2 separate regions of the Homo sapiens genome follow, and region 1 is linked to region 2. The links come from fine-mapping of genetic effects on gene expression. A gene starts in region 2. The other region holds a variant in brackets. All regions are shown on one strand. Distances are from middle to middle.

Region 1 (5,371 bases), 86 kb before region 2:
CAAAATGTTTCAAATCAGGGTCATGAAAGAACAGGGCTTATTGGGGATATCATATAGCTAGTGTGTCCAATGTGTATGAGGGAGAATGGTGGGAGATGTGTGAACAGGGGGGCTGAACCAGACTGGGAAGGCCCTTGTATGCTGTACTTCAAATTCCAGACATGATCCTATAAACATAAAAGATTCAATAGAGATCTTTAAGCAAAGGGATGAGATGATGAGTTTGGTTCCCCTCTCCCACCTCAAAAAAATAACTATAAGCAGTGGGGAAGTCAGACTGAAAGGAAAAAAAATCTAGCAACAGGGAGGTAAGTTCCCTGAAGACAGGGATCATATCTATTTTATTCACCTAGTTCCTAGCACTGTGCCTGGCACAAAGCACTTACTTAATAAATATCTATGATGAATGAATGAATTAATTATTGAAGTCTCAATATTATTAACATTTAGAGGGCAGACAGAAGATGAAGAACAAAGGAACTTTTACAATTTTCTTTTAGAAATACTAGTGATTGCAGGCCAGGCATGGTGGCTCACACCTGTAATCCCAGCACTTTGGGAGGCCAAGGCAGGCGGATCACCTGAGGTCAGGAATTCGAGACCAGCCTGACCAATATGGCAAAACTCCGTCTCTACTAAAAATACAAAACTTAGCTGGGCATGGTGGTGGGCGCCTGTAATCCCAACTACTCAGGAGGCTGAGGCAAGAGAATTGCTTGAATCCAGGAGGCTGAGGTTGCAGTGAGCCGAGATCATGCCATTGCACTCCAGCCTGGGTGACACAGTGAGACTCCGTCTCAAAAAAAAAAAAAAAAAAAAACTAGTGATTGCTGAAAATCAAATAAATGGTGATCTAAACAAAAACAAGAGGAATCGTCAAATATCTTCCCTAAAAAAAAAAAAAAAAAAAAAAAAAAAAGGCCAGGCTCGGTGGCTCACGCCTGTAATCCCAGCACTTTGGGAGGCTTAGGTGGGTGGACCATGAGGTTAAGAGATCAAGACCATCCTGGCCAACACGGTGAAACCCCCACCTCTATTAAAAATGCAAAAAACTTAGCTGGGCGTGGTGGTGCGCACCTGTAGTCCCAGCTACTCGGGAGGCTGAGGCAGGAGAATCACTTGAACTCAGGAGGCGGAGGTTGCAGTGAGCCGAGATGGTGCCACTGCACTCCAGCAGGGCAACAGAGGGAGACTCCATCTCAAAAAAAAAAAAAAAAAAAAAAAGGCCAGGCGTGGTGGCTCACACCTGTAATCCCAGCACTTTGGGAGGCCAAGGCAGGCGGATCACCTGAGGTCAGGCGTTCAAGACCAGCCTGGCCAACATAGTGAAACCCTGTCTCTTCTAAAAATACAAAAATTAGCTGTGTGTGGTGGTGCCTGCCTGTAATCCCAGCTACTCAGGAGGCTGAGGCAGGAGAATCACTTGAACCCAGGAGGCAGAGGTTGCAGTGAGCCAAGATTGTGCCACTGTACTCCAGCCTGGGAGAGAGAGCAAGACTTTGTCTCGAAACAAAACAAAACAAAACAAAACACACACACACACAAAGCTTCACAGTAAAGATAGCTCTCACATTACAGGCTTCTCCGAGGAATGTAAAGACTTGGTTTAACATCAGGAGATCTATCAAAGCAATTTTTATGTTAACAGGAAAGGAAAAAAAAGTATATAACCTTCTCAACAGATGCTGAAAATGCACTGCGTAAAATCCATCACACATAGGCCCCGTAATTTTTTTCTATTAAAGATGAGAAGGCCAGCAGGTACCTGCTATTACCACCACTATGTAACATTGCACTGAAGGTCATACCTAACAGAAGCCAAAAGATGCGTAACAACCTGATGCAAAAAGACAGGAATTTTAGGCCAGGTGTGGTGGCTCCAATCTATAATCCCAGCACTCTGGGAGGCCGAAGTGGGCAGACTGCTTGATCTCAGGAGTTCGTGACCAGCCTGAGGAACATGACAAAACCCCGTCTCTACAAAAAATACAAAAATTCGCCCAGCATGATGGCACACGCCTACAGTCCCACAAGTGGGAGGATCACTTAAGCCCGGGAGGCAGAGGCTGCAGTGAGCTGAAACTGTACCACTGCATGGCCCCCCAGCCTGGGTGACACAGCCAGACCCTGTCTCAAAAAAAAAAAGGAATGTTAAAGAAGAGAATAAAATTCAGAAACCACACAGTGTATATCTAAGTATACAGTATATGAAACAAGTAATATGACTATTAGTAAGCAAAAAGTATTATAGGAATTTAGATATGCACATAAATATTTGTAGGATACACAAAAAACTGGTAATAATGGTCACCTCTGGGGAGAGAAAATGAACTGGGGCTGGGTGTAATGCTTCACACCTGTAACCCCAACACTTTGTGAGGCTGAGGCAGGAGGATCACTTGAATCCAGTAGTTCCAGACCAGCCTAGGCAACAAAGCAAGACCCAGTCTCTATAAAAAAAATAAAAAAGAAAGAAAGAAAGAAAGAAAGAAAATGAACTGGGAAACAGCATTGGAAGATAACTATAAGCAACCTTTAAAAAATTTTTTTTTGGCCGGGCGTGGTGGCTCACGCCTGTAATCTCAGGTGTTTCACCATTTTGGCCAGGATGGTCTTGATCTCTCGACCTCATGATCCGCCCGCCTTGGCCTCCCAAAGTGCTGGGATTATAGGCGTGAGCCACTGTGCCCGGCCAGTGATTTATCTTTAGTAAACAAATTACATTTACTATCTTCTCTCTGAAGGAAGTTGGTATTTAGAAG[AT/A]TTTTTTTTTTTTTTTGAGATGGAGTCTCGCACTGCCACCCAGGCTGGAGTGCAATCGCACAATCTTGGCTCACTGCAACCTCTGCCTCCCAAGTTCAAGTGATTCTCCTGCCTCAGCCTCCCAAGAAGCTGGGATTACAGGCGTACCTGCCTACTTTTTGTGTGTGTTTTTAGTAGAGACGGGGTTTCACTACGTTGGCCAGACTGGTCTCGAACTCCTGACCTCATGATCCGCCCGCCTCAGCCTCCCAAAGTGCTGGGATTACAGGCATGAGCCACCGCGCCCAGCCTAGTAGAGAAGATTTAATTGGAGGACCACGAAGGTAGAAATGTTCACCCATTTGAATATGTGAACTTTTTTATTGTTGTTTTTTGAGATAGAATCTCCCTCTGTCACCCAGGCTGGAGTGCAGCGGTGTGATCTCGGCTCACTGCAACCTTGGCCTCCCAGGTTCAAGTGATTCTTCTGCCTCAGCCTCCTGAGTAGCTGGGATTACAGGCGCGCACCACCACGCCAGGCTAACTTTGTATTTTTAGTGGAGACGGGGTTTCACCATGTTGGCCAGGCTGGTCTCGAACTCCTGGCCTCAAGTAATCCGCCTCAAGCAACTCCCCTGACCTCCCAAAGTGCTGCGATTATAGGCAAGAGCCGCCACGTCTGGCCTGAATGTGTGAACTTCTAAATTATATGTCACGTTTTATTTATTAGGAAGTGTGAAGTATAGAATTCCTTATGGCTAAGACCTATAAAGGTATCATTAAAAAATTTAAAGACATAAAATACCCCTCAGTTTCTCTGCCTTTTTGAAGGAAAGCATCAGAAATAAAAAACAAAAGTGAAACTGACTTTTACAAAAGTTTAGTCCATTGAGATAGAGCAAATAAATAGGCACAATGAAAGAAAAGGGAATAGAGTCAACTAAGTTTGAGTGCACTGTAAATACTTTTTTAAAAATAATGTGTGGCCGGGCATGTTGGCTCACGCCTGTAATCCTAGCACTTTGGGAAGACAAGGCAGGTGGATCTCAAGAGTTCGAGACCAGCCTGGCCAACATGGCAAAACTCTGTCTCTACTAAAAATACAAAAATTAGCCAGACGTGGTGGCACATGCCTGTAATCCCAGCCATTCAGGAGGCTGAAGCAGGAGAATCGCTTAAACCCAGGAGGTGGAGGTTGCAGTGAGCTGAGATCGCACCAGCCTGGGTGACAGAGCAAGACTCTGTCTCTAAAAAAAAAAAAAAAAAAAGAAAGAAAGAAAGAAAGAAAGAAAAATGTGAATCAGGTCTGATTGGAAGCACTACTTCTGCTGCCTTCCTGTTTGTACTTTTCAGTTGCTGCAAGAATGATCCAGGCGGCTGCTAGGTGAGGTGACACATAATTCCAGCATTTTGGGAGGCTGAGGTGGGAGGATTCCTTGAGACCAGCATGGATAACATAGTGAGATCCTGTCTCTATTTAAAACAAAAAAAGGATGATCCAGGTGGGACGAGATGACTCATGCCCGTAATCCAAGCACTTTGGGAAGCTGAGGTGGGAGGATCGCTTGAGCCCAGGAGTTTGAGACCAGCCTGGGCAACACAGGGAAACCTCGTCTCTAAAAAAAAAATTAAAAATTAGCCAGGTGTGGTGGTGCACACCTGTAGTCCCAGGTACTCAGGAGGCTGAGGTAGGAGGATCACTTGAGCCTAGGAGGTCCAGGCTGCAGTGAGCTGTGATCACACCACTGCACTTCAGCCTGGGTAACAGTGAAACCCTGTCTCAAAAAATAAAAAAATAAAAAATAAAAAAAAAGAGACAGGATCTTGCTCTTGCCCAGGCTTGAGTGCAGTGGCATGATCATAGCTCAGTGTAACCTTGAAGTCCTAGGCTCAAATGATTCTCCTGCCCCAGCCTCCCTAGTAGCTGGAACTACAGGTGTGTGCCACCACATCTGGCTACTTTTTTAATTTTTGTAGAGATAGGGTCTCACCAGCCGAGACTGGTGTCGCACTCCTGGCCTCCAGTGATCTTCCCCCATTAGCCTACTGAAGCGCTGGGATTACAGGCATGATCCACCACACCTGCCCTCATTTTATTATTATTATTATTAATTAATTAATTAATTTTTTGAGACAGAGTCTCGCTCTGTCGCCCAGGCTGGAGTGCAGTGGCATGATCTCGGCTCACTGCAAGCTCCGCCTCCCAGGTTCACACCATTCTCCTGCCTCAGCCTCCCCAGTAGCTGTAACTACAGGTGCGCGCCACCATGCCTGGCTAATTTTTTGTATTTTTAGTAGAGACGGGATTTCACCGTGTTAGCCAGGATGGTCTTGATCTCCTGACCTCCTGATCCGCCTGCCTCAGCCTCTCAAAGTGCTGGGATTACAGGCGTGAGCCACTGCACCTGGCCTTTATTATTTTTTGTTTTTGAGACGGAGTCTTACTCTGTCACCTAGGTTGGAGTGCAGTAGTGCGATCTCAGCTCACTGCAACCTCCACCTCCCAGGTTCAAGCAGTTCTCCTGCCTCAGCCTCCTGAGATTGAGACCATCCTGGAACATGGTGAAACCCCGTCTCTGCTAAAAATACAAAAATTAGCTGGGAGTGGTGGCGTGCACCTGTAGTCCCA
Region 2 (5,371 bases):
TGAGCCTTAGATTATAAGAAAACAGGAACATTTGGGAGAAATCTGACTTGCACTGCTGGGCTGGCCCAGCCCTTTGGTTCTAGTGTAAACCAGAGGGCACCTCCAGTGCTTAACCTCCATCCCAGGCCAGGTCCAGTGCTCTGAGCATCAAAATCAACAGGTTCATTCCAGAGCCTCTACAGTGAAAAATACAACTCCATAGGCCTCTACTTGGCCAGTGAGTTACTTTCCATTGCACAAGTGAAGTCAGATATTTTTCTTGATTTGAAACATTAGATTTTGTTTAATTTAAAAGGAACTTAAAAATCGTGGTTTGCCAGGTGCAGTTGTGCTTGCCTTTAGTCCCAGCTACTCTGGAGGCTGAGGCAGGAGGTATGCTTGAGCCCAGGAGTTCGAAGCCAGCCTGGGCAATATAGCAAGACCTTGTCTGTAAAAAGAAAAAAAAATTGTGGCTAAATACACATATCATGAAATTCATCATCTTAACCATTTGTAGGTGTACAGTTCTGTAAAGTTAAGTATGTTCAACACTGCTGTGCAGAACTCTCCAGAACTCCTTTTATCTTGAATAACTGAACCTCTGTAACCTTTAAACATAAAAGAAACTTTTTTTTTTTTGAGACAGAGTTTCACTCTTGTTGCCCAGGCTGGAGCACAATGGCACGATCTTGGCTCACCACAACCTCCGCCTCCCAGGTTCAAGTGATTCTCCTGCCTCAGCCTCCCGCGTAGCTGGGATTACAGGCGCCCGCCACCACGCCCGGCTAATTTTGTTTTTGTATTTTTTAGTAGAGACGGGGTTTCACCGTGTTAGCCAGGATGGTCTCGATCTCCCGACCTCCTGATCTGCCCACCTTGGCCTCCCAAAGTGCTGGGATTACAGGTGTGAGCCACCACGCCCGGCCTTTTTTTTTTTTTTGAGACAGGGTCTCACTTTGTCTCCCAGGCTGGACTACAGTGGTGTGATCTCGGCTCACTGCAGCCTCCACCTCCTGGGTTCAAGTAACTCTCCTGCCTCAGCCTCCTGAGTAGCTGGGATTATAGACATGCACCACCATGCTCGGCTAATTTTTGTATTTTTAGTAGAGAAGAGGTTTCATTATGTTGGCGTGGCTGGTCTGAAACTCCTGACCTGAAGTGATCTGCCTGCCTCAGCCTCCCAAAGTGCTGGAATTACAAGCATGAGCCACTGCACCCGGCTTGAGGTGTGCCTTAATATCTTTGCAATGCAACCAAGGGTTGCCATTCCTGAGTGACTGAGGCCTCATGATGAGTGCTTGGGATCCATATGGTATGTTATTCAAATCATCCATAATGGTATGTATGCTATTGTCTCTACTTTTCTGTACTTTTGTGTAAGTTTGAAAGCTTTCATGATAAAATTTTTTTTTTTTTTTTTTTTGAGACGGAGTCTCGCTCTGTCGCCCAGGCTGGAGTGCAGTGGCGGGATCTCGGCTCACTGCAAGCTCCGCCTCCCGGGTTCACGCCATTCTCCTGCCTCAGCCTCCCAAGTAGCTGGGACTACAGGCGCCCGCCACTACGCCCGGCTAATTTTTTGTATTTTCAGTAGAGACGGGGTTTCACCGTTTTAGCCGGGATGGTCTCGATCTCCTGACCTCGTGATCCGCCCGCCTCGGCCTCCCAAAGTGCTGGGATTACAGGCGTGAGCCACCGCGCCCGGCCGATAAAAATTTTTAAAAAGTCATTATGTTTTCAGTTCATCACCAAAGTAATGACCAAATCCAAAGCACCTTTATTAGGCCTATCATGCACTATCTTGGTGTGGGCTCCCGCTCTGCCAAGAACCACACAACCTTTGAAACTGATGTCCTGGGCCTGGCGCGGTGGCTCACGCCTGTAATCCCAGCACTTTGGGAGGTTGAAGCGGGCAGATCACCTGAGGTTAGGAGATCGAGACCATCCTGGCTAACACAGTGAAACCCCGTCTCTACTAAAAAAAAAAAAAAAAATACAAAAAAATTAGCCAGGCATGGTGACGGGCGCCTGTAGTCCCAGATGCTCGGGAGGCTGAGGCAGGAGAATGGCTTGAACCCGTAAGGCGGAGCTTGCAGTGAGTCGAGATCGTGCCACTGCACTCCAGCCTGGACTTCGTCTCAAAAAGAAAAAAAAAAGAAAAACTGATGTCCTGGATACTGGGGCGGTTCCTTTACCTTCCTTCAAGGCTGTTCTTGGCGGGTTCCTGCTGTTTCGTTTTGTTTTTTCTTTGTTGTTGTTGTTTTTTTTTTGAGACAGAGTTTCGCTCTTGTTGCCCAGGCTGGAGTGCAGTGGCATGATCTCGGCTCACTGCAACCTCCATCTCCCGGATTCAAGCGATTCTCCTGCCTCAGCCTCCCGAGTAGCTGGGATTACAGGCACGCGCCACAACGCCCGGCTAATTTTTTTTGTATTTTTAGTACAGATGGGGTTTCACCATGTTGGTCAGGCTGGTCTCAAACTCCTGACCTCAGGTGATCCGCCCACCTCGGCCTCCCAAAGTGCTGGGATTACAGGCGTGAGCCACTGCGCCCCGCCGGGCTCCTGCTGTTTCAACCCATTCCTTGGATGGTGCTGCCTCCAAGTGTTCGGACCTTAGCCCCAGGTGGTCTTAGCACCAGTAACCCCCGCTCCAACTCCCTAAAGTCCGACCCGCCCCAGGCCCCGCCCACGCTCCACCCTCCCTCCCTGTCTAGCCCCCTCCCCCATCCCCTTCCCCCTCCTTCGCGTCTCCCCATCCGGCGCCCCCGCCTCGCGTCCCCTGGGTCCGCATCCTGGCAGCCTCCGCGTTTCCCTACCCCTGCTACCGGGCTCCAGCCCCGGGGACGCTATCTGCTTCACTCGGCCGTGCGCGCCGCCACCGCCCCGCACTGCCTTTTTCTAGGCATGGGGTCATCTAGGCCATGCATGATTCGCCCCTGCCCCACAGAAGTCCCTGAGGGGTCCTGGCCGGACAGCACGGAATAGAAGAACGGAAACTCTCCCAAAAGGAGTCCCAGGCCTGGCTCTATCCCTCCAGATGACGTCCCAGGAGGCCAGAGTGCAGGGCCGGCCAGAGGGAGTCACAGTCCGGCACCGAGAGGCAACTCGGCAGCTGGCGGGGCCCGGGCTCGAACCCAGGGACTCACCCAAACCGAGGTGACCGTCGCACGCGCCGCCGCCACCGGGGCCGACGAATCACCTGCCCTGGGAAGCTAGGTCCGCCCTCCCCCCGCCCCCAGCTGCTGCCTCACCGCTGGGCCCACAGGCCTCGCGCCCTGAGTTTCCGGCTCCTCCCTCCTTTGCGAACGCTGGGAGTTCCGTTGCCTACAGGCCGTTATTTCCGCCTTCAACGGCTGGGGCATTTCCCATCGGCTAGGGAGGGGGTCTTCTTGCATTTGCTTTGCACTGTCCGGGACTCTTCCTGCTAGATGACTTGACCAGGCCGAGGCCTCCCTCCTGAACACAAGCTCTTCGGGGCTCCTTTCGCCAATGGGAGGAGGCTGATCTTGTGGCCGGGCATTCAACGCCCTGGGCCCTGCCGCCTCCCGCAGATCTTCCCGGGCCTTAGGGCTTCACCTGGAGTCCCCTTCCCCTCTTGGGCCCGTGCTCTTAAACGGGCAGTGCCAATTGCCTGGATTACTCCAACTAACCCCTCACACCCAAGTTTCAGACACAGACCTTCGCTCCCCCACTTGCCCTTAACAAAAGCAGATACATACCTCGATTACTGCCTGTTTGCTGCTTTTGCGAGCTTCTTTCCCACTCGGCTGCGGGCTGAGCAATGGTAGGGACCTGGCTTGATTCCTATTTAAGTAGCCAGAGTCCAGCACAAGGGATGGCGCTCAGTAGACCCTGCGTGAAGGAATGATTAAATTGGTGCAAAAGACTAGGGTAAGCGGCAGAGATTTAGGAGATTAAGTCCTGCCAGGGTGTAGCCTCTGCAGGGCGGGAAGGCTGAGATTACAATTTTAAAACTGAATATTTATTGAATGCTTACATTCAGCCAATCCCTGCTTCACACCCATCATCTCATTTAATTTTTTTCCTTTTTTTTCTTTTTTAAGCCAGTAGATATTAACTCTTAATCATGACATGAGGAAGTAGACACACTGAAGCTCAGAGAGGTTAAGTAATTTGGCCAAAGTAACACAGCTTTCAAGGAAAATGTTTGAATTTGCTGAAAGTTTGATGTATAGGGAAGTTGACTACCGATGTATGACAGAAGCAAAGTATCCACCTTTGGCACATTTTGCGTCCACGGAATGCTAAAATTTGGACTTGTGTATTTTATGCACATTACACCATACATTCAGACTAAAAAGAATAGGAAATTAGGCTGATGAAAGGCTATTACTAGACTGGTAAAAAGGGTTCTGGGGCCCTGGAAGGCCAATTTTTCTGGACGTGAGATTTTTTTTTATTTTTTTGAGATGGAGTCTCGCTCTGTCGCCCAGGCTCTGGAGTGCAGTGGCGCAATCTCCGCTCACTGCAAGCTCCGCCTCCCGGGTTCACGCCATTCTCCTGCCTCAGCCTACTGAGTAGCTGGGACTACAGGCGCCTGCCACCATGCCCGGCTAATTTTTTTGTATTTTTAGTAGAGACGGGGTTTCACTGTGTTAGCCAGGATGGTCTCGATCTCCTGACCTCATGATCTGCCCGCCTCGGCCTCCCAAAGTGCTGGGATTAAAGGCGTGAGCCACCGCACCCGGCCTGGACCTGAGATTTTATTTAGGTGGCTCTTTCAGTGGCCAGGCTGAGCAAAGCTGTCCACTAGGGTATTTATTTGGTGCATCCACAAATAAAAGCTCATGTCTGCCTGATTTATGAGACTGACAAAAAAGAGAAGTCCAGGGCCTGACTTCACTAGGGAATTTTGACACCCAGGATATTAGGTATTTTGTGTCCAAACAACCATCCCTTACAACCACGGAGGTCACATCTAATGGTCGGGCTGCATAGAAAAGAATAAAGACCTTAAACATTTTAGGAAAATAGACTGAGACTGAGAAAGAAGTTCCCAAATTCATGCCTGGAGGTCCAGGAGAAATGTTCTAGTTCCTCACTCACACCTAGCTGAATAACTTCCCATATCACTGAAAAAACAAAACAAAACCAGGTCAGGCACTGTGGCTCATGCCTGTAATCCCACCACTTTGAGAGGCCAAGGTGGAAGTAGCCCATGAGTTTGAGACCAGCCTGGGCAACATGACAAAAACCCATCTCCACAAAAAAAAAATTAGCTAGGTGTAGTGGTATGAGTCATGATCCCAACTACTTGGAAGGCTGAGGTGGGAGGATCACTTGAGCCCAGGAAGTCATGGCTGCAGTGAGCTGTGATCCTGCCACTGCACTCAGCCTGGAGACTCTGTCTCAAAACAAACAAAAACCAGAGCAC

Which allele goes with the higher level. Alleles are on the strand shown, and positions count from the first base shown. SD is a standard deviation of normalised expression in the study named.
With allele AT in place of A in region 1, the expression in lymphoblastoid cells of the gene that starts at base 3,182 in region 2 is lower (moderate effect, 0.56 SD a copy in GEUVADIS).

What was found. PIP is the estimated chance that this variant, and not a neighbour inherited with it, causes the effect. A credible set is the group of variants that fine-mapping cannot tell apart.
Region 1: its variant is the best candidate, but not a certain one, in a credible set for the expression of SNUPN in lymphoblastoid cells (GEUVADIS, PIP 0.72).

The regions. Positions count from the first base shown.
Region 1 is chr15:75,536,553-75,541,923 of GRCh38, forward strand. All of the region lies in intron 1 of PTPN9 (protein tyrosine phosphatase non-receptor type 9), which reads right to left. Among named protein-coding and RNA genes, the nearest start is that of PTPN9, 40 kb to the right of the region's middle. The variant AT/A (reference allele first, on the strand shown) is at 2,763.
Region 2 is chr15:75,622,544-75,627,914 of GRCh38, forward strand. SNUPN (snurportin 1) reads right to left here and starts at 3,182. Exons shown (of 9, transcript NM_005701.4): 1 at 3,123-3,182. RefSeq lists a silencer at 2,661-2,710 and an enhancer at 3,361-3,550.